Linked DNA regions of Homo sapiens. The protein of the gene in region 3 interacts with the protein of the main gene of each other region in a pairwise test. Each region holds a gene or a part of one and is shown on either strand. Other genes may lie near its edges.

Region 1 (8,047 bases), on a different chromosome or scaffold from region 3:
ATGATATCCATTTTTAATTCGATGATTACTCAGACTTTATCTGAGTTTTGACAAGTGCATATACCTTTGTAACCAAAACTCCTATCGACAGAACATCACCATTATCCCAGGAAGTTCCCTCTTGCCATTTCCAAGTCAATCTCCATCCCCAAGAGGCAACTATTGTTCTGATTTTTTCCCATCAGTCTGTCCTAAGACTTCATATAAATGGAACCAAACAATATCTACTCTTTGTTGTAAGACATCTCAGCATGTTTCGAGATTCATTCACGTTGTACGGATCATTACCTTGTTCCTTTTTATTTCTAAGAAGTGTCCTCCAAGTATATGAATATATCGCAGTTTTTAAATCTAGTTTTCGTTAATGAACACCTAGGCTGTTCCCTTTATTTATTTATTTATTTTTGGCTCTTATGAATAGCTGCTGTGAACATTCTTGTACCAAAAAAAAGACAATTATTACTGCTCCAAAGGACAGCTGTATTCCCTGTATAATTCATTATTTTGCATTCTACCGGAAGTACTGATAAAATATTTGCAGGGAAACTTCCTGGAACATGATTTAAATATGTGGTTTAGTAGATATGAGGGGTGGGTGGGTGGGCATTCTCGTCCTATAAAAAATTGCTTGCATGCATTTGAAATCATGTGGACTGAAGAGACGAAAATAACTTCTATTATTTGTTCACTCACTGCTTTTCTCATACAGCTGATATTCACAAGCTCATACTGTTATCTGTTCTTTCCTGGGAGATTGGATCAAAGTTGCATAGATTCTAGCGGACTAAATATTTGTGAAATTAATTTTGCCAATTCTCATGACTCTAAGAACTCTTTTACACCTTCCAAAGAAGTTTCATAAAGTCCTTGCTTCTGCCTGCAAACTGTCCCAGTTGCCCCATTCTGGCCTGAGCAGTGCAGCCTTAATCCCAGAGGGCCTGCGCTACCGTTACTGGGCCTTCATGCTCCCCTCCCTTGGCTCTGGTTTTGCTCTTCCATAGGGAGCACAAAGTGTACTCTCCATAATGAGGCTGAGCTGTTTACGTGCTAGAACTCCCATTTAGAACACTGGAAAAAGCCAACATTATATCTTTGGCCAACTATTTAACCTTATTTCTTTAGCTATTAAATTGAAATAATAACCATATGTTTTAAAAAGCTTTTAAACCCAGAGCTAAAGACTCTGTATTAAAAACTGGACTTACGGCCGGGCACGGTGGCTCACGCCTGTAATCCCAGCACTTTGGGGAGGCTGAGGAAGGCAGATCACTTGAGGTCAGAAGTTCAAGACCAGCCTGGCCGACATGGTGAAACCCCATCTCTACTAAAAATACAAAAAAACTAGCCGGGCCTGGTGGCGTGAGCCTGTATTCCCAGCTACTTGGGAGGCTGAGGCAGGAGAATCACTTGAACCCGGGAAGCAGAGGTTGCAATGAGCTGAGATCGTGCACCGCACTCCAGCCTAAGCATCCAGCCTAGGCAACAGGGTGAGACTCTCAAAAAAAATTTTTTTTTAACTTATTCTCCTATGTTAATCCTATGTTAGTCTTCTTCCAGAACTCTAGTGATGGGATCACTACCCATCCACAACCTCCAGTCACCTCCAAGACACCTTTGACGCCTCCACTTTCCCAGTCAACCCAACACCAAGCCTCATCGACTTCATTTCCTAAACCCCACTCGAATCCATCCAGTCCTCTCCGTATCCACTGTCACCACCGTCAGTTTAAAACATCGACCACCTCGTTTGGATTCCTGCCAGTCTCCTAACTCGGCTTGAGCCCTGGCAACCAGTTCCCACTGCACTGCGGTCACTACACCCAGGACCTTCCTCACCTTAAATAAAACTGCCCCGAGATTAAAGATCTACACCTTCGCCAGGCCAAAAGGCCCTTCCCACCTCTCCAGTTTCTTCTTTATGCCTAGGCCACACTGGCCATTCGGTTTTTGAAATACAGTACTCTCGTCCTTGGTTTAGGAAACGCCAGATCCTTAGCGCATTCTTCTGATTACCTTCCAAACTAAGCCAGTTCTCCCATCCCTCCCCCAATTTACTGAGCTTAACACTGAATGCTTCTACAGTCCAGTTGACCTTTCCTTTAAAACATTCATTACAATTACAGTTTTGTGATGATCTTAGCACTGCTGTTCTCCATCACTAGACCGTAAACTCTACGAAGCAGGAACAAAATGGACTTATTCGTTACTGTGTTGTGCCTGACAGAATGAATAGTAGTCGATTTTCAGATTCTTCTCTCCATCCTCTACTTTTCTAAGACTTAGGCCTTTCACAACACGTACTTGAAACTGAGACTTCTCAGTAAGAGAACTTCGTTTACTTGGTTCAAGTCTTAAGCCACGGAGCCCACTAAATGACAAATGAGAAAAAAAATCCCAGTCACTTCGCGACCTTCCCCCATAAGGCCTCCTCCCGCAACAGCAGGCAGCAAGAACAACGCATTTGTCCAGCATGTCCTGCGCAGGCGCCCTTCGCCTGGCTCGCTCTGCCCCACCTGTGCCAGGCAGTAAGCCGCAAGAGCACTTCCGGGAGCCCCCGACCCGGTTGTTGGTAAGTCGGCGGCGACGCCCACCTGCAGAACGGGACCGGCGGAGCGCCAGGGCTAGAGACGGGACGTAGCGACGTACTGCGTGCGTGCGTGCGCACAAACGAGGGCGCGCATGTCGGGACGGAACTAGAAAAGCTCAGTGGGGCTGGCGGCAACTCTAGGTCTAACATCCCTCGGAAGTTCGTGCAGCGGCCTCGCTGAAAATGGCTTTACAGCCCGGCAGAACCCTCCGACTCCGCAGCAGGACCTGCGGAGCCTCTCCGCCCTCGGTACCGGCGGGACGGGGTAGCCCTGACCTTCCGGGTGCCTCCTCCACAGGGGCGCCCCCTAAGGCCACGCCCTCCCGATGCCGGTCCGCGCACCGCTCCGCACGCCTCATATTTAGCATTACCTGTGCTGGGGCAAGCGATTGACATACTGTAGCGGACGCAAGTACAGCGGATCTGCGGCGAGTCCCCTTCGCTCTCCGTAGTGGGCGGGGCTTCACCCCGCGTCCTTTAAAGGAAAGGTGATGGGCGGAGCCACGTTTTTCTACTGTTGGGATTCAGTTCCGCCGACAGAAAATGCGGAGAACGCGGAGGAAGTCCCTGAGGGGAAATTGCTGCTCACCTGGCTCCCGCTGCTCCGCAGGTGCGGTGAAGGCTAATGTCGAATTTCTGCAGCAATCGGAGCAGCCCTTACTCCAGTTACATTAACACCAATCTCGGTCTCCCACTAGGGCTTTATAAATTGCTTTCATAAACGTCTTTTTAATGTAACACTGAATAAAATGTTTTATAAGCGTCTTTTATAAGGATCGTAAGTGAAAGGGCGCTGTCTCCGATTTGCAGGTGAGCAGACAGCTTCGGAGTGAGAACGGCTCCCCGCGGGTCCCCGGTGGCGCGCGGCTCCCGGAGGCAAAACAAAGCTGGGGCCGGGGCGTCGGAGCCTCCGCGTTGTAGTTGGGAGAGGTTCGAACGGGGCCCCAGCTGGCGAAAGGGAAAACGGACCCGGACCCGGACCCGTGGAGCCTGCTCGAAAGCCGGGTGCTGGGGGTCTGGGCCCCGTGTCCCCCCTCTTTTTCTTCTTCAATAAGAAATTCCTCAAGGGCAGACTGCGAGTCCACAGTCGTGAAGCCACCTAATCTGGCTTCATACCTGGAATGTTTGGATTCCTGGTACGAAGAAAAACTAACATTTATTGGCTACTTGTCCACTGGAAGGCGTTGTCTTATTTCTCATTAACTCCTTGAGTCAGCATTACGTCTTTTATTACAGATGACACAACTACTAAAGCTTTAAATAGTTCTTTGGGAGCAAAGACGAAATCTCCATTTCCTTTTTAGCTGCTGGTAGCTCGACGCTCACTGTTAAAATAGGGAGGTAATGAAACAACTCTTGTGTGAGACCGAAAGTCCAGGTGTGCATCTTGGCCATTTCCAAGTTAATCAAGAAGAATTAAGGATTCATTTTATTCTATCAAAATTATTTCTCAATGCCAAGATATTTTGTGTGACGTAGATTCGGGGACAGACTGAGTAGCACAATACCTGGGAAAAGTTAGGTGCTCAGCAATTATAATTGCCCACATTTGTGATTGCTTTTGCCTATGTGCCAGACACTGTTCTACGCACTGAACATATCTCAAGTTATTCAATCTTCAGGACAACCTTATGAGCCAATTATTATTATTACCCATTTTACAGATGAGGGAACTGAAACAAATTTGCCCAAGGTCGCACAACTAGTAGCAGAATCAAGAATAAAAAAGCCAAAAAACCCCAAACCCAGGCAAACTTTAAATGTTCCTTGCATTGCTAGACTGAAGTAGTGAGAGAAACAGTAAACAGTACGAGTCCATGAAAACATTAAAAGGATGTGAAGTATGTACAAGTAACTGAAACATTTAATGCCCAAACTAAAGACTTAAAATTTGCTAAGGTAATAGCACAGGTAGATTCACACCAAGTAATCACTGGTAACTGAAGCTACCGGCCAGCATCCATTTGCAGTCCGTCTTTGAAGGCAGCTGTGTCCAGAGCAGGTGGTTTAGGAAGCTTTCTAGACTTCCATTGTCAGATGTCTCCACGCCTAGAAGATGGTGCTTTAGTGTTCCTGGGAGGAGACATGCAGAGATGGGGTGGCAATTACAGACATGCCCACAGATGGAGAGAAGCCATTTTTTTCATCTTTTCCCTTGAACTCTTCTTTGACCTCCAGCCGAAATGGAGCTTGGCAGCTTTTGTGGGGTTTTTTGTTTTTTTGTTTTGTTTTGTTTTGTTTTGTTTTTGGAGATGGAGTCTCTCTGTGTCGCCCAGGCTGGAGTGCAGTGGCGCGATCTCGGCTCACTGCAACCTCCACCTCGCGGGTTCAAGCGATTCTCCTGCCTCAGCCTCCCGAGTAGCTGGGATTATAGGCGCGTGCCACTGGGTCGGGCTAATTTTTGTATTTTTAGTAGAGACGGGGTTTCACCATATTGGCCAGTCTGATCTCGAACTCCTGACCTCAGGTGATCCACCCCACTCGGCCTCCCAAAGTGGTAGGATTACGGGTGTGAGCCACCACGCCCGGCCACTTGGAAGCTTTTAAAGAGTCATTGAGAGCCTTGAGCTGTGCTTGGTGGGGGCAGACTTTGAAGATCCTTGAATAAAGATGAAGAGGTTTGGGGAAATGCTATTACTATGCCACAGATCTTTAATAAACTACTCCGTTATGTACATAGAAGAGGACTCTGAGACATGTGTAGAGCTTTCCCAATTGTTATCGTTTCTACATATAATTTAACCCCCTCAAAAAATGTAACTCAATAAGACTCAAATCATGGTGACTCTAAAAATGCCTATATTTTCTATTACATAGTAATTTCTACGTTAATTTCCATAGCATGCCCATGAACTTTCTCTTTCAATGAATATATTGGTGATTTGCTCTGATGAAGGAATAATGGAAATATCCCGTCCCTCTCTTTGCCTGTTAGCTTTCCAAGTCCTCCCACTTTTCCCCAACGCCGAGGGGACCTTCCAAAACAGGATTGTATGTGAGATTTACTTGCTTAGCCCAAGGTCATTGAGGTACAACATATCTGATCCACAAAAGAATCAGTCTGTGGGTGATTTCTTTAAAAAGTTATGAACACTGGGCTGCGTCTTTATAATGCCACAATGACTAACAATTCATTTAAAAATCTAATACTAATAAAAATCCTGGTGGTGGTTGTTTTTTTGTTTTGTTTGTTTGTTTTTTGAGACGGAGTCTCACTCTGCTGCCGAGGCTGGAGTGCAGTGGCACCGTGTCGGCTCTGCAACCTCCGCCTCCTGGATTCAAGCAGTTCTCCTGCCTCAGCCTCCCAAGTAGCTGGGATTATAGGCACCCACTACCACGCCTGGCTAGTTTTTATATTTTTAGTACAGACGGGATTTCACCATGTTGGCCAGGCTGGTCTCGAACTCCTGACCTCAGGTAATCCACCTGCCTCGGCCCCAAAAAGTGCTGGGATTACAGGCATGAGCCACCATGCCCAGTCAAAATCTTGGGTTTATTTTGAAGATACGAAGCATCTTCAAACTTTAAAGCCCATGTGGGTTCAGATATTCAGCATATTCTTTAACAAATAATTGTTCATAGATTAGATACTCCTCCCTCTCCAGATTATAAACTCTTACCTGGGCAGTTTTGCTAAAATTGGGGGAATTTAAGTCTATTATGTGTGAGATCCTATGTAGTGCCAACTAAATGTAGCTGAGAGCAGTTATCTTAAACAGCAGCAACTCTGTCATTACAAGGCCAGTTTAATAGCCAAAAGGGTCCATGCTCTCCTTAGTTGATGTTTACAGACTTGTCAAGAGTCATAGAAACAAGGCATGCAAGAGGCTTTGGCTGAGTGTTAGGTAACTCGTTCAAAGCTTCCTGAAGATACTGTCAGCCCAATATTGTGTGTCTATTATTGTCTGTTAGAAACTATTAAAGCCGAAAGCCTTCTTATGAAATCTCTACCATTTTCCTCAGGCAGGACTATAATTAATCCATTCCAAACATGTAAAACATCTCTATATTTAAAACAAGCCAAAACAAAACTCGAGGCCAGGAGATTTAGCTTCTCATTTCAATGTTTTATAAGACGGGAGTCTTTTCCTTTACATAACCTAAATCCATCATGTTGCTACTTAGTCTGGTTCTGCAGTAGAGCTGGAGAACATCTGGTGACCACATCTGTGTTATAACCCTTTGTGTGCTCTCAAACTATTTGCTAGATTCAAAATAAATTTCCTTACCATGAGTGAGATTTCCCATAACATTAGACTCCAGATTAATCATTTCTCTTGTCAGAATATGATGGCCTCAGTTATTAAAACGTGGTGGTTGTGAATCAGCAAAATGTCTAAAATGAATGACATATTGTAATAAAGTTTTAAAAACTTTCATATCTGCCAAATAAAAATATTTGTATATGGAAGATCCACTTCTGTGAAAAGTCTCTTGTGCAACTGCAGAAGCAGAAAATAGGTTCAGAAGTTTCATTTGGAACACAACAGAGACATGTCTTTCCATTTCAGAGGTGTTGAGTTTTGAGGTGATTCAGTTAACTTTGATCGTTTTGAAACAATGAAAATAATTTCTATTACCATCATAGGACATCATGCAGAACAACAAAGAGCTAGTACAAAGTGTACCATGCTGACTGTTGTGTAGATAAAGCAAAACAGTACCAAATGATTAGTTAGCATTTTACATTTAGAATGCAACCCAGCCGGGCACAGTGTCTCATGCCTGTAACCCCAGGACTTTGGGAGACCGAGGCAAGCAGATCATGAGGTCAGGAGTTCAAGACCAGCGTGGCCAACATGACGAAACCCCATCTCTACTAAAAATACAAAAAAAAAAAAAAAAAAGAAAAAAGATTAGCTGGGCATGGTGGTGTGTGCCTGTAGTCCCAGCTACTTGAGAGGCGGAGGCAGGAGAATCCCTTGAACCAGGGAGGCGGAGGTTGCAGTGAGCCAAGATTGCGCCACTGCACTCCAGCCTGGATGACAGAGGGAGACTCCATCTCAAAACAAAAAAAAAAAAGAATGCAACCCTATACTATTTTTAAACACCTATGTGAGACGTAGTTACAAGGCTGTTTAAGGAGGGGAGGACTGACAGCAAATAGAATGTTTGTGATAAAATAAATTTGTGCTCTCACAGTTTCCCATCTTTGAGGCAAATGGAATTAAAGGCAAATTATTCCATTTTTGAAAGTTCCTCAAATGTGGAATTTCAGATGTTTACTGTATAGGGAAGTAGACTTTCAACTGTACATTGGAGTCATTGTTTTGCTGCTTTTTCACCTTGCAAGTTGCTAGGTTCTGCTGCAAAGATTTTTAAAGCCTGCTTTGTTAGCAGCCTAGGACACATCCATGACCTTACCAAAGTGAAAGTGAAAGCTCTTAGTTTTTCTTTTTTTTTTTTTTTGCAACAGTAAATCTACTAATTTTACAGTCAGTTGAACAGCAATAGATTAAT
Region 2 (6,897 bases), on a different chromosome or scaffold from region 3:
CTCACTGCAACCTCCACCTCCTGGGTTCAAACAATTCTCATGCTTCAGCCTCCCGAGTAGCTGGGATTACAGGCACACACCACCACGCCTGGCTAATTTTTGTATTTTTAGTAGAGATGAGGTTTCACCATGTTAGCCAGGCTGGTCTCAAACTCCAGACCTCGGGTGATCCTCCCGCCTCAGTCTCCCAAAATGCTGGGATTACAAGCATGAGCCACCGGGCCCGGCCCCAGTAGTAATTTTTAAAGTAAGCAAAAAGTCTTACAGAAGGTACAAGGCTGTCATAAAACTTATGGCCCTCCAGACCTAAAAACTGAGATGCAAATTGCTAGCAGTTTGGACTTACAAAGCAAGTAACCCTTCCCTCAACCCCAGAGATGGCACCAGAGATGGCACCAGAGATAATAGGCTTTCCTGTAAATGGTTTCCAAATAACAGTAAACCTGGTCCAGGACAGATTACTTACTCACACTGGGCCCTGCCCTGCAGTCAAACTCTGGCACCTGGAGCTGCTCTGGCAGAGTTGGCAGGTGGCTGAGTTCTTGGCATGGGTGTAGAGACTTTTAAACAGAAATACTTCCAGGGATGGGAGTTAAGGATTTGGTAAGGCAACCTCAGTTGGCAGAGGAGGGATTCCAAGTTCTGAGAACCACCCTGCCCAAGAGAAGCAAGGCAAGGGCCATTGGGTGGGCTTCTCTGGGGGCTGCAAAGGACAGTGACAGAACAAAGCCTTAAAAATTAGAGTTCAGTTTTATTTAACTGCATGAGGTATGTTTGTACTGCACTGATTTTGCTCATATGTCACTCTTTCCCCATATCACTAATCCTAAAACAATTCAGTGAGGTACAGGGCAGAGATTCACTTATTCATTTTATAGATGAGAAAATGGAAACGTGAGGAGGTAGAGAGACTGGTTTGTGATTATATATCTGGGGAAGGGGTGAAGCCCAAAATACAACTCCATCTTCCTACCTCCCCACCCATCAACCTTAGGCTCTTTCAACTCTGATTTACAGAGAGAAGGGCTCACAGAACACACAAGGGGCAGGCACAGAAATCCTGGGGACTTAGGGGACCTATGAGACCATCTAGGGCAGCAGTTTTCAATACTGACTGCACACTAGAATTACCTTAATTCTAGTAAGTAATTTACTACAATTAAGCTTATGTAAATTTAAATAAATACCTATGCCAGGGCACAAGAATCTGATGCAACCGCTGATTTATAGCTCAAATCACCCCCACTCCCATCCCACATATGACCTTCTGTCTCCCTAGAGCTTCCACCAACAGGTCCTTGCTCCATCCTCCGCCCCCCAAACATACTGTTCATCTCTCCTCCACATTACCTAGAGTCAGAGAATTGGATTGGAAACTGGCCTCAGACTAGTCTTCTAGATGGAAAAGTCAATGAACAGTTCTGAGGCCCAAAACAGGAAAGTGACTTGCCTAAGATATCCATAAGTCAGTAACAGAGCTGAATCTGGATCTCCGATTACCAGGCAAGGCCCCACCCACAAAGGGGTCACAGGGAAAGCCAGTCCTGATGGCAAATCCAGCAGCTCCTGCTAGCAGAAGAGACCCAGCAAGGGGCTAAGGAGGACACCAGGGGAGAGTGTGTGTATTTGGTGGGAATGGGGTGTCAGTGACCACCCTGGGTCCCTGGGCAAGTCTGCTCTTGTGGCATACTGCAGGCAGAGAGCGATTCTGGAGTGACAGGGGCGGAGCTGGCCTATAGGAAGATATCCTCATCTCTAGAATAGGGCCCAGCCTAATATGAAACGCCCTTACAGAAACCCAATCTCTTGGGGCAGCTTACACCACAGGTGTCCAAATTCCCTGCCCACGATAGTAATAATGTCTCACACTTCTTGAGCTCTTCACTAGGCACCATACCCGGCCTATTTCACGTAATCTCCGCGAGCATCCTACAAGTTGAATATAATTACTGTGTCCATTTACAGATGAGGAAACCATGGCCGAGAGGAATGAAGTAACTTCCCCAAGATCACTCAGCAAGTGCTCATTTCAGAAACGCACAAACTGAAATTGGAACGATACAGAGATTAGCAATGTTTTAAATAAAAAATAAAATATAAAATAAAAGACCACTCGGAGCGACGGAATTCAAAGCTTGGTTCATGTCTAAACACTACCATCCTGCCCCCTAACAAGGCAGAGGAGGAGGTAAAGCCCAGCGACAGCGGAAACTGAGCACCTAGGTGTGCAGGAGACGTCGTCTGGTGGACTTCTCCTCGCCACGCAGGAGGCACGTGCATCCACCAAAGAGGAAACCAAGACGGAGCGGGGAAGCGTCTCGCTCAGGGGCATCAGCAAGTAACTAGCAGGGACCAGACCCGGAATCCAGGTCTCCCAACCCCGACTGCAAATCCTAACTACTTAAGCTCCACAGGCCGATGCAGAGGCAGTCAGTCCTACCGGGTAGGCGTGGTGGGCGCGGCCAGCGCGTTCACCTCAGCCTAGCCAGCCGGCCAGCGGACGCACAGCGGGCAAACCGCCCAGCCGGTGCACACAGGTGAGCCAGGTGGCACTCGGTCGGTCGACAACCGGCTCTCACACTCCCGAAAGGGCGGCTGAAAATTCAGGCTGAGCTCTGGCCGCCCGAATGTGAGGTAGAAAGACAAGGAGTCCGCGCGCGCTCACCCGCGCACTCCCTGGAGCGGCTAAGTGTGGACCCAACCCCGGGCCAGTGAGGGGGCGGCCGGATTGTGGGTCCCCACCCCCATCCCCGGGCCCTACTGGGGTCACTCACCCAGAACACGGTGGAATAGATGATAAGTGAAAACTTGAGCCAGAGGTAGGAGAAGCGCGCGCAGTAGCGCACCTGCTCCGAGTCCCCGCGCGGCATCCTGGGCGCTCCCCGCGCGGGTTACGGGGGCTCCGGGGCTCTCCGGCTCGGTCCCTCAGCCAGCGCTCGTGGCCCCACCTGCGGCTGCCGGGCTACCAGCCCCGCCACCGGCGTTCTCTCCGGGACTGACACTGGAGCGCGGCAATCACAGCCCCAGCCGGGAAGCCTGCCAGCCCTGGCGGCCAATGGGAGGCCGCGGCTGCCTAGCGTCTGGGAGGGGGCGGGCCAGGGGCGGGGCTGCTGCCCTGGGCCCTAGAGGGGACCAAGAAGGGATGGGAGGGGGAGACGGTCTTGCAAATGAGCTCGCGTGCAACTCTGGAAACGCCTGTGCTAATGCAGGGGGCGTGGGAGAGGTGAACCAGAGGTGCTCTAAGGAGAGAGCGAGCGTGCCTAATCGGGGTACATAGAAATGCAAGCTTTCCTCTTGTCAAGAGGGAAAACTTTGGGAAAAGGGCAAGAATTAATCGCCCAGGTGTTGAAAGTGCAAATGAGTGTGCTAAACGTGAATGGAATAAGGAAGTGGAGTTGCTCGGCTCAGGAAGGCTCAGGGAGGCAGACCAGGGTGGGGCTAATAGGCCCCCATGGAGCTGGAGTCTGAAGTTTGCTCGTGAAACAGATCTGCTGAAGGCCTTCACCAAACGACCTCGGAAGTCCCCTTCTTTTGCCAGGTGATAACCCAGCCTTGGGAAGGGTTCCTCCCGGGAAACCCCATCTTCAAACTAGGTTGAAGGCCTGGCGCGGTGACTCACGCCTGTAATCCCAGCACTTTGGGAGGCTGAGGAGGGCGAATGGCTTGAGCCCCAGGAGTTCAAGACCAGCCTGGGCAACATGGCAAAACGCCGACTCTATAATTAAAAAAAATAAAAAGCCAGGCACGGTGGCGCGCCTGTTGTCCCAGCTACTTGGGAGACAGGCGGGAGAATCGCTTGAGTCAGGGAAGTCAAGGCTGCAGTGAGCCGTGATTGTGCCAGTGCACTCCAGCCTGGGAGACAGAGTGAGACCCTCTCTCCAAAACAAAAACAAAAACAAGGCCGGGCACGGTGGCTCACGCCTGTAATACCAACACTTTGGGAGGCCAAGGCGTGCGGATCACTTGAGGTCAGGAGTTCGAGACTAGCCTGGACAACGTGGTGAAACCCTGTCTCTACTAAGAAATACAAAAAAAATTAGCCGGGCAGGGTGGTGCATGCCTGTAGTCCCAGCTACTGGGGAGGCTGAAGCAGGAGAATCGCTTGAACCCGGGAGGCGGAAGTTACAGTGAACCGAGATCCCGCCACTGCACTCCAGCCTGGGTGACAAAGGGAGACTCCATCTCAAAAAAACAAAAAACAAACAAACAGAAACTATAGGTGAGGGAGGCAGCTCCCTCTCTTGCACATAGCCAGCCACTAACCCAGCCTCCTCCCACCTGGCCTTTTCTCAGCCTGGGACCAGAGGTGGCTGTGAGCCTGTCTCTCATGCTAGATGGTCCCAGCTTTACTCACTGTTGTTTCCTGTCTCCCAAGCCTAGCTCAGCCTGGGACTTGGGAGCCAGACAATCCCTGCTGTGGCCTTCAGTAATTAAATCCATGGCAGAGGTCATAAGCTCTAGCAGTGCTGGGTGGGGTCCCTGGTGGTGATTTCAGGAACGACACTCTTATACAAGTCCCCAGTCCTGGGTTCCCAGGGCTCCTGCATACACAAACTCAACAGAGAAGGACAGACTCAGAGACTTAGTCCAGGCTGGCTTTAGCCCCCAGAGCTCTGCCCTAGGAGGAAGAAAGCAAGATTGGGGGGTGGGGAGGGAGGCAGTGCCATGCCTGGAAGGGTAAAAGGAAACCAATTTCCTGGTACAAAACAAACAAACCTTGGGAGGATGTTTGTGTGGGGTAGAGAAATAGAACCAGAGCCAGGCACAGTGGCTCATGCCTGTAATCCCTGCACTTTGGGAGGCCAAGGTGAGAGGTTTGCTTGAGTCCAGGAGTTTCAGACCAGTCTGGGCAACGTAGCAAGACCTCATCTCCACTGAAAATCAAAAAAATTAGCCAAGCATGGTGTCTCGTGCCTGTAGTCCCAGCTACTTGGGAGGGTGAGGTGGGGGTATCACTTCTCGAGCCCAAAAGATCAAGGCTGCAGTGAGCTATGATTGTGCTACGGCACTCCAGCCTGGACAACAAAGCAAGACCCTGTCTCAAAAAAAAAACAACAGGGAAAAGAAAAGGTGGAAAGAGAACCAGAGAGTAATGCAAGCTGCCCTCAAATGATTATCTGAGGGCCAAGAAGGCATCTTACCATAGTGTTAAAAGTTGTCCATTCTGGCCGGGCGCGGTGGCTCACACCTGTAATCCCAACACTTTGGGAGGCCAAGGCAGGGGGATCACTCGAGGTCAGGAGCTCAAGATCAGCCTGGCCAACATGGTGAAACCCTGGCTCTACTAAAAATACAAAAATTAGCCGGGCATGGTGATGGGTGCCTGTAATCCCAGCTACTCGGGAGGCTGAGGCAGGAGAATCACTTGAACCTGGATAGCAGAGGTTGCAATGAGTCAAGATCGTGCCACTGCACTCCAGCCTGGATGACAGAGCGAGACTCGGTCCCCAAAAAAAAAAAAAGTTGTCCTTTCTGTCCTTTGAGGAGGAAGACTAACTTTTTATTCCTCTTTGAGGGCTAGAGCCTCCACCCAGCCCTGCAGAGCTAAGTCCACACCCATTATTTGAGGTGCTAGTCTCTTCCCCACCCATAGAAGCTTGGAACCCTCTTCATACCCTGGAAGGCTAGTTTAGCCTCCTAGTTCCCTTTCATTCTCCATATTTAAACTACAGTCGAAACTGCCACACACCTCCATCAGGTTTCCTTCCCAGTTGCCCCTGGACTTCTATTCTTCCCTTCTGGCCTCTCCAGCCAGCTGCATTTTCTCTCATCTTTCAAATATTCCCTGGTGACACACAAGCTTCTTAGCAAGCCCTCTCAGCTCTCCCTAAGCCCTCGAGGTGAGCCATCCCTACAAAGAGCCTTGGAGCTCTTTGGGGCTGGCACAGCCTTTCCCTGGCTGCTGGGCTTCTTCACTGTGCCTCCCCACCTGCAATCCTGACCCTGACCCCAAGCACTAGGGCTCCTCCTGAACCACATTTGCAAACACTGAGACCTCAGAAGAAATGGCCATCTGTTTCCCACTTTTCCTCCTTTAGCCAGGAACTCTGGCCTAGGGGCCAGCAGGCCTGGTGCAAATCCTGGTTTTGCCATTACTTTTTTGTAGGACTGTTAGAATGTGTGGCATAGTGTGACACACAGGTGTGAATGCAACCCTAGCTGCAGACTAAAAGCACCTGGTAAGCTTTAAATGTATCCTGATATTCAAGCCCCACTGCAGTCAAGTCAAAATCCCCACCAACAGGAACGTGGTAATCAGTATTATTTTTAAACTCCCCAGGTAATTTCTCATTTTTATGTTTATTTTTATTTTTTTGAGAGGCAGTCTTGCTCTGTCACCCAGGCTGGAGTGCAGTGGCGTGATCTTGACTCACTGCAACCTCCGCTATACAGGTTCAAGTGATTCTCCTGCCTCAGCCTACCAAGTAGCTGACATTACAGGCCCCCGCCACCACACCCAGCTAATTTTTGTATTTTAGTAGAGACAAGTTTCACCATGTTGGTCAGGCTGGTCTTGAACTCCTGACCTCAAATCATCAGCCCACCTCCGCCTCCCTAAGTGCTAGGATTACAGACATGAGCCATTGTGTCTGGACTCCCCCAGGTAATTTCTAAAGTGCAACCAGAATTAAGCATCACTGGTACAGAGGTAGTCATGAGGGTAAGGTTGTCAGCCAACATCTTACCAGAAAGCCACATTCCAGAAGTCACTTACTCAGCTATCCACTGATATACTGGTAAATATTTAAAAACTAGCTGGTGTGGGGGATTCCAATTTCCATAAAGTAAATACTTCCACCATGTCTGATTTTAAGTTACCAACTTCACTTCAATGAACTTGGGAGTTCAGAGGCATGCAGAGTCTGGAACAATCACTCAGTATCCCATGCAAATATC
Region 3 (7,104 bases):
ATATAGAGAAATTCACTCATAATTTCTTATTGTCCTGAAGAAATTCTTATGCATACCAAAGTGCCAGTTTATGATCCAAGTTTGTAAAGTGATGTCAAACATTGCATTGTTTAACATGAGACATTTAATAATCAGTCATGTTCATAGTTTTCTTAATTCTTCTAAATGATGTCAATCTGATATCTTCTTGCCTGAAAGACAAAACATTCCATTAGTAAAATAGAAAAGATTGTTTCTGGAGTAATTTAGACTATAAATAAACATTCAATTATTAAAACCCTTACCTTTCTAAGAGAAGACAACATAAATCATTATGATGCAGCCCACAATCCAGCCAATCAGGAGAAGAATAGGAACCAGAAGGTGTGAAAATGTAGACCCCGCTTTAAAATAAACCGTAGAAAACAGATTATATTGGTCATTTTCATATTAAATTTTCTGTGTCAAGAGAATAAAAGGAATTTGGTAACATTAAGAAAAAAGCATACACTCTCTAGTTATACCCATACATAATTATTTTTTCTTTTCTACAGAGAATACGTGAGACTGTCATAAACCCTGGGTATTTTGAATCAAACCATGGGTCTTTTACTGTTATGTGACCTTTGGCAATTCTGGGCTTGAACTTTCCTACTGGTAAAATATGAATAATGAAACTTGTGCTCTCTACCTCCTGGAATAGTTTTGAACATCAAATGACATAACATATGTGCAAAGCTTTGTAAACTCTAACCACCGTGTGTGTTTAGTGTATACAGAACACATTCATGCATTTGTGCAATAACATATACAGCAGCTATTTATATAAAAAACAATCTAATACAACTCTGAGGCAATTCCCACTAAAGTAAATAATTATAACACAAGGAAAGGTATTGAGAACTGTCCTTGGCCTCAATAGCTGAATGTAATTTTAAATATCACAGGGAAAAGGAAAGTATCATACATTATGTAACCATTCTTGACTACAGAAAAGAATTTCTATTGTTTAAAAATTGTTCAGTATAACAACCAGCACTGAACCTGAATCAATGGGCAGTAATAATCCAACACACACATAAATGGCGTTTGTTATATATGATTCCTTCTGTGCCTCCTATTTGTACTCTTACCTGTAAAAAGCAATTTATACAAGTATCTTTTTTAAAGTATGCACTGCATGTAACTCTTGTTCTTTCAAGCAAACATACACAGGCATACACACAGAAATCCACACCTACATCACACAAAAAGATTTAGAAAGAGCGCAGAAAAACATTCTATGGAATTAATGTCCCTGTGTTAAGGACTCAGATATATTCTTAACTGCAAAGCATAATTAGATCTTATGCCATTAGTTAAAAGAGAGAATGCATATTCTTAGCAATTATACTCCTATTACAATTTCCATCACTTTAAAATGTGAAATTTTTAAAAATGCTATTAAAATAAAATCATCAGGAGATGAGACACATTTAAAATTAGAAGACACTTTTATAAAAGCAAACTTTCTGAAGTTGAAATAAATTTTAATACTTTAAATCAATTTTTCCAAGAATGCTAGAGTCTCTCTTAACTGACAAAATTCAACATGCTTTTCTTGTTTCTCCATCTCACTGTGACCTTGTATAAGGCATTAAGCACTAAATGGAAAACTCTTCTCTTTACTTGACATGTGGTATTGCTTAAGGATAAAGCAAACAACATGAGTTGCCCTTTACTCTCATTTGGACGAAAGCCTTTTTATGAATTAAGGTACCATTACAATGGAAGTACATAGCAGTAATTTTTTTGAACTGTCTAGGTATGTGGCTTTATATTTTTCCCAATTTCAAAGAATTTGAAAATTAATATTAACCCTTTAATTGTGCATTTATATTTTATACATGCATATTTTAATAAAATTTACATATCACAAAGCCCTAAAAGTATCTCATTATTTACTTTCCTTGTAAAATAGTACCAGTAGCACTAACTGTGCATTTTAACACCCAAAGTATACATTCCATTGTTTTTTTAACACTAATGTTTTCAACTTTACTAATACCTGTGGAATTGTTTGGAAGTAGAAATACGTAAGAGCACAACATACTTTGCATATGTCACTTACATTACTAGCACAAATAAGAACAAAACATCTCTTAAACATGAAGTGTAATTCTAAAATGCTTCTCTCTTGTCCAGTTCTGAGCATATCAAAGTAGTTACAGCTGGAAGTGTTCTTGAGGACACTGTGCTCTGGAAAAGACTGTCCAGGTTAAACACCTGGTGCCACCACTCTTTAGCGATCATGAACAAGTTACTAAACTGCTGTGTCTCCATTTTCTTATCTATAAAATGGGGATGATGATGATATGCATATTTCACAAGGTCATTGTCAAGATTCAAAGCAAAAATTCCTGTTTAATATTTAAAAACCATTTCTTAGATACAGTATATATTCAACTTTTTGACAAATTGGAATCAATTATTTTATATAACTATAAAATATAAATACAAAAAAATGTTTAAAAACCAGAAAAAAGTTAGATGTGGAACAAAAATTTTAGGTGTGGAATAGATGCCTGAGCCCAATATTCTCATTTTACTGTCAGAAAACAGACTCAGAGAGGTATAGGGACTTCTGCAAACTCACATAGCCATTTACTAGCAGGTCTGACACAGAACTTAACTGTCTTCAATTCTGGCTCAGAATTGAAATCAGGAGAACTGATTTCTAACTCACCTTTCAAAATAAGTATTAACAAAATTAAGCTCTTTTCCTTTGTTGATCATTTTAAAATTATTCATAACCTATAGACCTGATCCATAGATTACATAATTAATGCATTTTTGCAGCCACACTAACATATATGGTTAATGGTCATTTAGCATAGATATCACATTTTTTAGAGTGACTGGGAAACACCAAGAAACATAAATGAACCAAAGTCAAGAAGCCTTTTTTTTTTTTTTGCCAAGAGAATCCTATGCCTTAAATCTTACCTTTTTCAGCCATTATTCCTGTTGGTGGGTGGCTAGGTCAGGCCACGCTTACCTCTTTCTTTTGTTATCCAGCGTCTCTTTGAACTTTAAATAGAGAGAAATCTGAAGATTGCGGCAGCTGCCCGTCTCCTGGCTGCCAATTGTCTGCAGAGTGATGTAAGTCATGGGAAAGCAGAACTCCTCTGGCTCTTTATTCTATTATTATGGAGGAAACGAGGGGCTACATGACCTAAACAATTAGGTAAGCTGAATTATCCTAATGCAGATATTCGCAGGTTTTTAATTTGCACCATGCCTTTAGGTAACATGAAGAAAATGTTCTATAAAGAAGGTGTACAGAGGAAAAACAACATTCCACCTATACAAGTGCTATCAAGGAGAAGGGTGATATATTAGAAAGAAAGGATTTTGATGTTGGAGAGACTTGGGTTCAAATTCCAGCTCTTTCTGTAATGAAAGCCAAGTTGCTTAACCTGGGAATCAGCTTCTTTAGTTTTAAAATGAGGATAATAATACCTACTCATGGGAGTCGCATAAAGATGAAATGAAAGTCTGTATGAAATGTAGACAGTTCTTTATTACTTTACAGGTGGAAAACATAAAATGAAATGGTGCCCCTTTCTTTGAACTATTCTAAAACAAAAAGTGTTAATATAAATGTACTAGAAACTAAAACAATACAGACGTCGCCTAGAATTTTTAGGAAGCAGTCATAAGCTTGTTGTTTTTATTAGCAATGTATAAAAATAGGACATTTCATTTTTCAAAGTCCAAACTGGTTTATGTAACTGACCTAGACTATTCTCTATATTCTCATTGGAATAACTTTAAATTGGGGATCTGGCTGGAAAAGTTTTGCAGAGTGACCCTGTGAGCATCTTCCCAAAAAAAATTTGACATAAGATTAAGACCTGTAAAGGCAGGTCTGGCCTGATCAAATTTATCTCCACAGAGTTCCAAGAGTGATATTGCCTTGCAAATGACCATGTTCCATCACTGCTCAAAAATCCACCAATAGTTCTTCATCTCCTAGACAATAAAAATCCCAACTCTTTGTTTAGACACCTAAAAACCCTTATTTCTCTACTCTTCCATTTGCAGTGATAACTTCAGTGACACTGAACTCCTTGCTATTATATGAATTCAGAATCCTCCCACTCTCACAGGCAAGAAGAACATTTGACTTTCTACCTCAAATAATGTACCTATAGATTAGAGTGTGCAGCCAAGAATCTGGCACATTTATATCATTTATGTCAAGTTGTCATCTCTCTCCTCAGTCTCTCTCTCAATATATTATTTAATATTGAAAAAATGTCTGGCTATGTCAGGTAAGCAGAAAAACTACGTATTGTTTATGCAACAAAATCCCTTGCTTACCTGGCAAAGTTGGGTATTTTTTTCAATATTAAATAATAATACGTTAAACAAAGGTTAACTGAGGCCAAAAGAGAGAGAAGAAATAAAAATGTTATTGATCTCATTTAAATATAAAAAATGTTAATTCAGTAAGTTCAAATGAACACTAATTATCTTAAGGAAAAAAATGATATTTAAAACAAACAGTGTGGTACCCACAAAGAGCACAAACATACATAATAAAATAAAATAATTTGCCTGAAACATATGAAAAGGTTTCTACATTTTAAATACTCATTTCCATTTCAATTATATTAAGCTTTCTTCTTGACATGAAATTGACTATTATTAACATTATTGCTGTCAATTTGGAGTTTGAGGAGGGATTAGTTTATAATTCATCATTTATTTTCCTTACTTTTCTATGGAAAGAAGAAGAGAAAAAACTAACTTAATCAACATGAATTTCTCAGACTTCAGAAAAGAATTCAACCTAGAATCTCATTTCCTTGGTTATATCATCAGTAAATTTTTTAAAAAATATAAGTTTTATAATATTTAATCAGGAAAGGATGTTTTATTCATTAATAGACTGGTTTCACTTTGAGCTTATAAACCCAAGGGCCTATATTTGACCGTTTTCTAATCTTTCTCTTAGGACATACTAATTAGGAACATTTTCTACTTTTTTACTTTACATACTGTCTTAAACATTTAGCTCTCAAATCCCTTATTCTCAAGGTGACATTAGATTCTTCAGAGATATGTGAGCCGAAAAATTTAAATATTTGGTTTTTCTTTAAAATATTTAAGAATTCTTCACTTTTCAAATATTTTTCACTACTAATGTCTGGAATTATAGTACATAGACCTGACCATGGTGGATGCTCATGGATCTTTGCTTCATGGCTGGCTGACTGGGTAGGTGGATGTAATAAGTGCAGTATAAGGTAGCTTAGTTTGCACTCTAAACAAAGGTTTACTTATGGCAATACCTAAAAGAGTAATAAGAAATAAAATGATCTTAACTATACTCTAGCCTTATAATATATGCATATATAGATAATACAGTGTATTTAATTACCAGTAACATTAGAATAATCTATAAATAAGAATATAAACAAATAAAAGAAAGTGACATCTGCAAAAATAGAGGAGTGGGGGACTCCAAAATATCTTTCCTTCATAAGAGCACCAAGAAAGCCATCTAAAATTTTTGAATCAATTTTTAAGAATTGTAGAAATTAACCAAGGACTTACAGCAACTGGGGGAGCTGGAATCTAGGTAAGAACAGCAAGAGTTTTGTGATGTTTTAATTTGGCCTATTCTCATCTCCCCCATCTCCAGCTTTGTAGCAGCCTTAAACAATATCCCAAAATCTCAGTGAAAACTAGCAGACTAGCAGCCACCAGAGGAGACAGAGCAGAACAGAACTCTTTCAAAGTCTCAGTTTCAGAGAACAGTAATTATTTAAACTGTCTGGTGGTTCTCCCAAAGACCTCACCTGCAAGGCTGTCTTTATTTGATAAGACTCAGAACTTCCACTGTGTGAAAAGTACCCACTCCCAGGGCATTTGTTGAAAACAATTAGAGGCAATTGTTTAACATCACAGCTGCCTAGGTAACAGAGTGAACAATAGGCTAACTAAAAAGCTTAAAAGGAGAATCTAGGGAATGAGATGTCAATAGGGGTTTGAAAAGTTTCACATATCCTTAAGAATCTAGAAGGCTACATGCATATGTTCAGCTATGGGCATGACCTCATGGCTGTGGGTATGCTTAGGAAAGACCTGAAAAGGCCCTAAGCTTTCACCTCTGGCTAACCTTGAGGCTCAAAATGGAAAGCAAATGGTAAGGCAGTTGTCAACTGCCTGGCTGAGTGTTAAAGGCATACCTCAACACATACACAGAGCCCATCATTAAAGTCTGGAAGGCATACTAGTTATAGGCATTTAAAGAAATCATTGTCCAATCATTAGTTGATAACTAATCTAATTGAGCAAAAATTTTAGTGGTCACATACAACAAAGAATGCAAATTGTACACAATCAGTTCAGAATAATAACAACAACAAACAGCAATGACAACAAACTCTTGGGAGGAGGTAGAATCTGATTTAAGAGTTGACATTATTTAAAACTACTAACTTTCAACAAAAAAAAGTTATGAGATATGCAAAGGAACAAAAATGTATGCCCATACAAAGGGATAAAAAAACTATCAAAAATAACTATTTCTGAGAAGGTCTATAAATTAGACTGACTAACAAAGACTTTATGTCAGCTATTTTAAGTATTTTCAAATAACTAAAAAAAGCAAAAGAATGCCATCTCAGCAAAGACAATATCAGTAGCCAGATAAATACTATTTTTAAAAGAGCAAACAAATTCTGAAGTTGAAAGGTGCAATGACTGAAATGAAAATTTTACTAGAGGCTCAACAGCAGATTGAGCAGGCAGATGAAAGAATCAGTTAATTTGAAGGCAGTTTGATTGAGATTATCCTGTACAAGAAACAAGAAGAAAAAATAATAATGAATATGGCCTTAGAGATCTGTGGGACACCATCAAGCATATCAACATATGCATAATTAGAGTCCTAAAAGAAGAAGAGAAAGGGCAGAAAAAATATTTGAATAAATCATGGCCAAAAGCTTCCCAAATTTGTGAAAAATGTTAACGTACATATTCAAGAAGCTCAATTAATTCTAGGTAGAATAAACCCAAAGAGACCAATACCTAGACACAAAATAACGGTCAAGAACCAAAGACAGGTTGGGT
Region 4 (3,275 bases), on a different chromosome or scaffold from region 3:
TGCACTCCAGCCTATGTGACAAAGCAAGTCTCCATCTCAAAACAACAACAACAAAAACAACAAACTGTGGCTTCTGTTTTGGGTGCCGAATCTCATGCCCTTTCTTGGATGTCTTTAAATGGGGGGAAGCCAGCTTCCATGTCATAAGGAAGCCCCGTGGAAAGGCACAAGTGGCAAAGATCTGAGGCTTGCCAACAGCGATGTGAGAGAGCCTGAAAGTAGATCCTCTTTCAGTTGAGCCTTAAGGTTACTGCAGCCCAGGCTGACATGTTGATTGCAGTTACATGAGAGACTGTGAACCAGAATCACCCAGCTAAGCTGCTCCTAGATTCCTGACCCACAAAAACCATGAGATAATAAATGTTTGTTGTCCTCAGCCACTAAATTTTGGAGTAATATTTTATGCAGCAGGAGACAATTAATACACCTGGTTTGGTGCATTAATCAGGGTAATCAGGCTGGGTCATGGAAGGAGTGTTTGATATATAGCAATGTTGTGATTGAGATAATAAACTTTTATTTATTGAAGAGTAAAATAGTACATTAACAAAATCTTATCTGATAGAGAGATAATACCAGAAGTCTTCTTACTGTGATTATCAGCTAAGTGACTGGTTGAAATCAGGATATAAATCACTGGATAGTTTTTTTCTGGAAAGACTTAGAACACATCAATAAGGCCCTCTAATAAAGAAATTGAAATGAGATCTTGCCCTTTGGAGAAAGAGAACTGTGTAATTCCTGTAGCCAGGGCACTTAGTCAAAGAGAAACAGAGGGTTGTGACAATGGTCCAGTGAGCCTGGCCCCAGAACTCCCTTCAACTAGTCTCTTGCTTGACTTTGGGGAGAAGACTGGGCATTATTTAGAGGCTGGAGACTAATTCGACAATGGGAAGATGCAAAAATTCATATCCTGGGTTCACCCTTTGATGTTGGGCCATTAAATCCAGTTTGTCTTTGCCTCTCTTGTCTAAAAGATGCTCAGATATTAGTTTCACCACTTTGAGAGACATGGCTGCTGCCGTCAGTGAGTGAAAGATTGTCTTGCTGCCTGAGATGGGATGTGCCTGGCCAACACCCACTTCTCTGGTTGTATAAGACAGGGACCTAAAAAGGGAAAGGATGGGAGGAGGATCATCCTGCAGTGATCATGTAGGGCTTCATGCTATAAATGGTTTTGCATTTCCGGAGATGAAACAAGTCTCTTCACCACAGGACTACTGCAGATCATAGCCCTATGGTCTGGCTGGTTTTGTCAATCTGGCAGTTCAGGGTCAGTGCAAAGGACATCCCCAACACCTGTGAAAAGAGTTGGGAAAATTTGAAGTCTTCATAAGAAAAGCCATTTCTTTCACAATGCCTGGGATTGGCCTCTGAGAAAAAGAATGTATCCATTACACTGAAACCACCCTTCCAACCATTACTTTCAAGTCTCTCTCAGGAGCTCTTTCCTTTGGTTAAAGAATAGCAGTGAGGAGAGAAACGGGGTCAATGATGACAAGATAACAGGCTGTAAAGTACTGGAGCATGTTTTATCTTCTGAGGAAGTCACAGAAGCCTTGCTGCTAGGATGGTCATATTCTGCTCACTGAACACTGTGCAATGAGTTATCTCTATCCATGCTCTGTGCCTCCTTTGTTTCCAAACAGAGAAAAATCATTTTCTCTGAGCTTCCTGATTGAGTTTTAACTAATCTATGATATACCCAACACTTTGGGTAGAAAAATGTTAGAAATATCACATTATTTTTGTCCTTTTTTATTAAAAAGGACAAAAAACTACCCTCAATTCACCCATCACTTGTCAAACTAAGCACAGAAACAAAGAGGAAATTGATTACAATTTTCGTCATCAGCCCCTTAACATGCAAGATCAGGTTTTCAAATGAAATACTTTATCAATTCGTATTTTTCAGACCAGCTGAGGAGGGATCACAGTGGGATTCTGCTTGGTGGCTTTTTTGTTTGACTGTGAATCATGTGAATCACTCATATCTCTGAGGAATGAATTGACCAGAGAGATGTTCTTTTTTTTTTTTTTTTTCTGGAGACAGAGTCTCGCTCTGTCGCCCAGGCAGGAGTGCAGTGGCACGATCTTGACTCACTACAAGCTCCGCCTCCCAGGTTCACGCCATTCTCCTACCTTAGCCTCCCAAGTAGCTGGGACTACAGGCACCTGCCACTACGTCTGGTTAATTTTTTGTATTTTTAGTAGAGACGGGGTTTCACCATGTTAGCCAGGATGGTCTTGATCTCCTGACCTCGTGATCTGCCTGCCTCAGCCTCCCAAAGTGCTGGGATTACAGGCGTGAGCCACCACGCCCGGCCAAGAGATGTTCTTATAGCACATTTTCTATATACCTTAAAGCAAATTGTTAATTACATTATTTGCTACTTGGCTGGGGGAATTCATATATTAGTAAAAATAGCTAACATTTATTGTGTAAATACTGTGTACCTGGTATTATTCTGAAATCTTACCTGACTTAACTCATGTAATCCTCACAATAACCCTGTGGTTAAGCTCTTACCTCAATCACACATACACAGATGGTGATGATTCCGATATACAGGAAATTGGAATGAAACCACAGTCTTGCTTTCGCATAGCAACCCTAGAAGACATTTCAGTTACAAATGATACTACTCTATAATTCCACCATATCAAGAGGAAGTATTTGGAAGATACAGTGCTTTGCATTTTGCTTTATGTAATACAAAGAGGCTTAGGTATTATATTTTTATTTTCTTTGCGTGAATGAAGAAACAGGCATAAGGTGGGAAATATTAAACTACAGACTTTTCTGGTGGTGTTATCATTACAGTGGTAACTAATGTAGAAGTCCTAGATCCTTACCCGCTGAGTTAAACTAGCTTCTAAGAGGCAGGTCAGCAACCGACGTCCTACTGTCTTTGAACACTCAGTGCTGACCAGAGATTAACATAGGGCATGCAATACTAAAATTGGTTTGCATTTCACTTTCTGCTTCAACATTCAGTAAATCCATCATAGCCCTACCAAGTGCCAGGGCAGTTGCTGGTCAGTGGTTGTCCTAGTCTTTCTCCACAAACCTGAAAAACCCTGGAGATTTCCAAACCCCTTCAGGAGCAGATAACATGAGGAGACAAGACCTCAGGGATTCGGTCTAGTTGGAAGATAGTTGTGGCTTCTTCTCAGAGCCTATTCTGGAGGTCCAAATTAATTGGACAGGTTGTTTCAGTAGTTCCACTAACTCTGTCTCCCTCAACTCCTTACTCCTTCACCTATGATTCATT

What was found.
Region 1: the proteins of STRIT1 (region 3) and MTIF3 interact in binary tests that used the Homo sapiens proteins (3 or more experiments, as listed by UniProt).
Region 2: the proteins of STRIT1 (region 3) and TSPAN15 interact in binary tests that used the Homo sapiens proteins (3 or more experiments, as listed by UniProt).
Region 4: the proteins of STRIT1 (region 3) and CD53 interact in binary tests that used the Homo sapiens proteins (3 or more experiments, as listed by UniProt).

The regions. Positions count from the first base shown.
Region 1 is NC_000013.11:27,447,551-27,455,597, forward strand, and holds the start of MTIF3 (translation initiation factor IF-3, mitochondrial), read right to left. Parts: upstream 3,015-8,047; 5' UTR 2,959-3,014; exon of another isoform or gene 2,302-2,958; intron 1-2,301. UniProt on the Homo sapiens protein: IF-3 binds to the 28S ribosomal subunit and shifts the equilibrium between 55S ribosomes and their 39S and 28S subunits in favor of the free subunits, thus enhancing the availability of 28S subunits on which protein synthesis initiation begins.
Region 2 is NC_000010.11:69,447,568-69,454,464, reverse strand, and holds the start of TSPAN15 (tetraspanin-15), read right to left. Parts: upstream 3,001-6,897; 5' UTR 2,871-3,000; coding exon 2,775-2,870; intron 1-2,774. UniProt on the Homo sapiens protein: Part of TspanC8 subgroup, composed of 6 members that interact with the transmembrane metalloprotease ADAM10.
Region 3 is NC_000003.12:155,290,656-155,297,759, forward strand, and holds the start of STRIT1 (sarcoplasmic/endoplasmic reticulum calcium ATPase regulator DWORF), read right to left. Parts: upstream 3,029-7,104; 5' UTR 2,978-3,028; coding exon 2,965-2,977; intron 384-2,964; coding exon 289-383; 3' UTR 285-288; intron 192-284; 3' UTR 1-191.
Region 4 is NC_000001.11:110,897,148-110,900,422, reverse strand, and holds the end of CD53 (leukocyte surface antigen CD53), read right to left. Parts: intron 2,615-3,275; coding exon 2,531-2,614; intron 1,300-2,530; coding exon 1,228-1,299; 3' UTR 501-1,227; downstream 1-500. UniProt on the Homo sapiens protein: Structural component of specialized membrane microdomains known as tetraspanin-enriched microdomains (TERMs), which act as platforms for receptor clustering and signaling.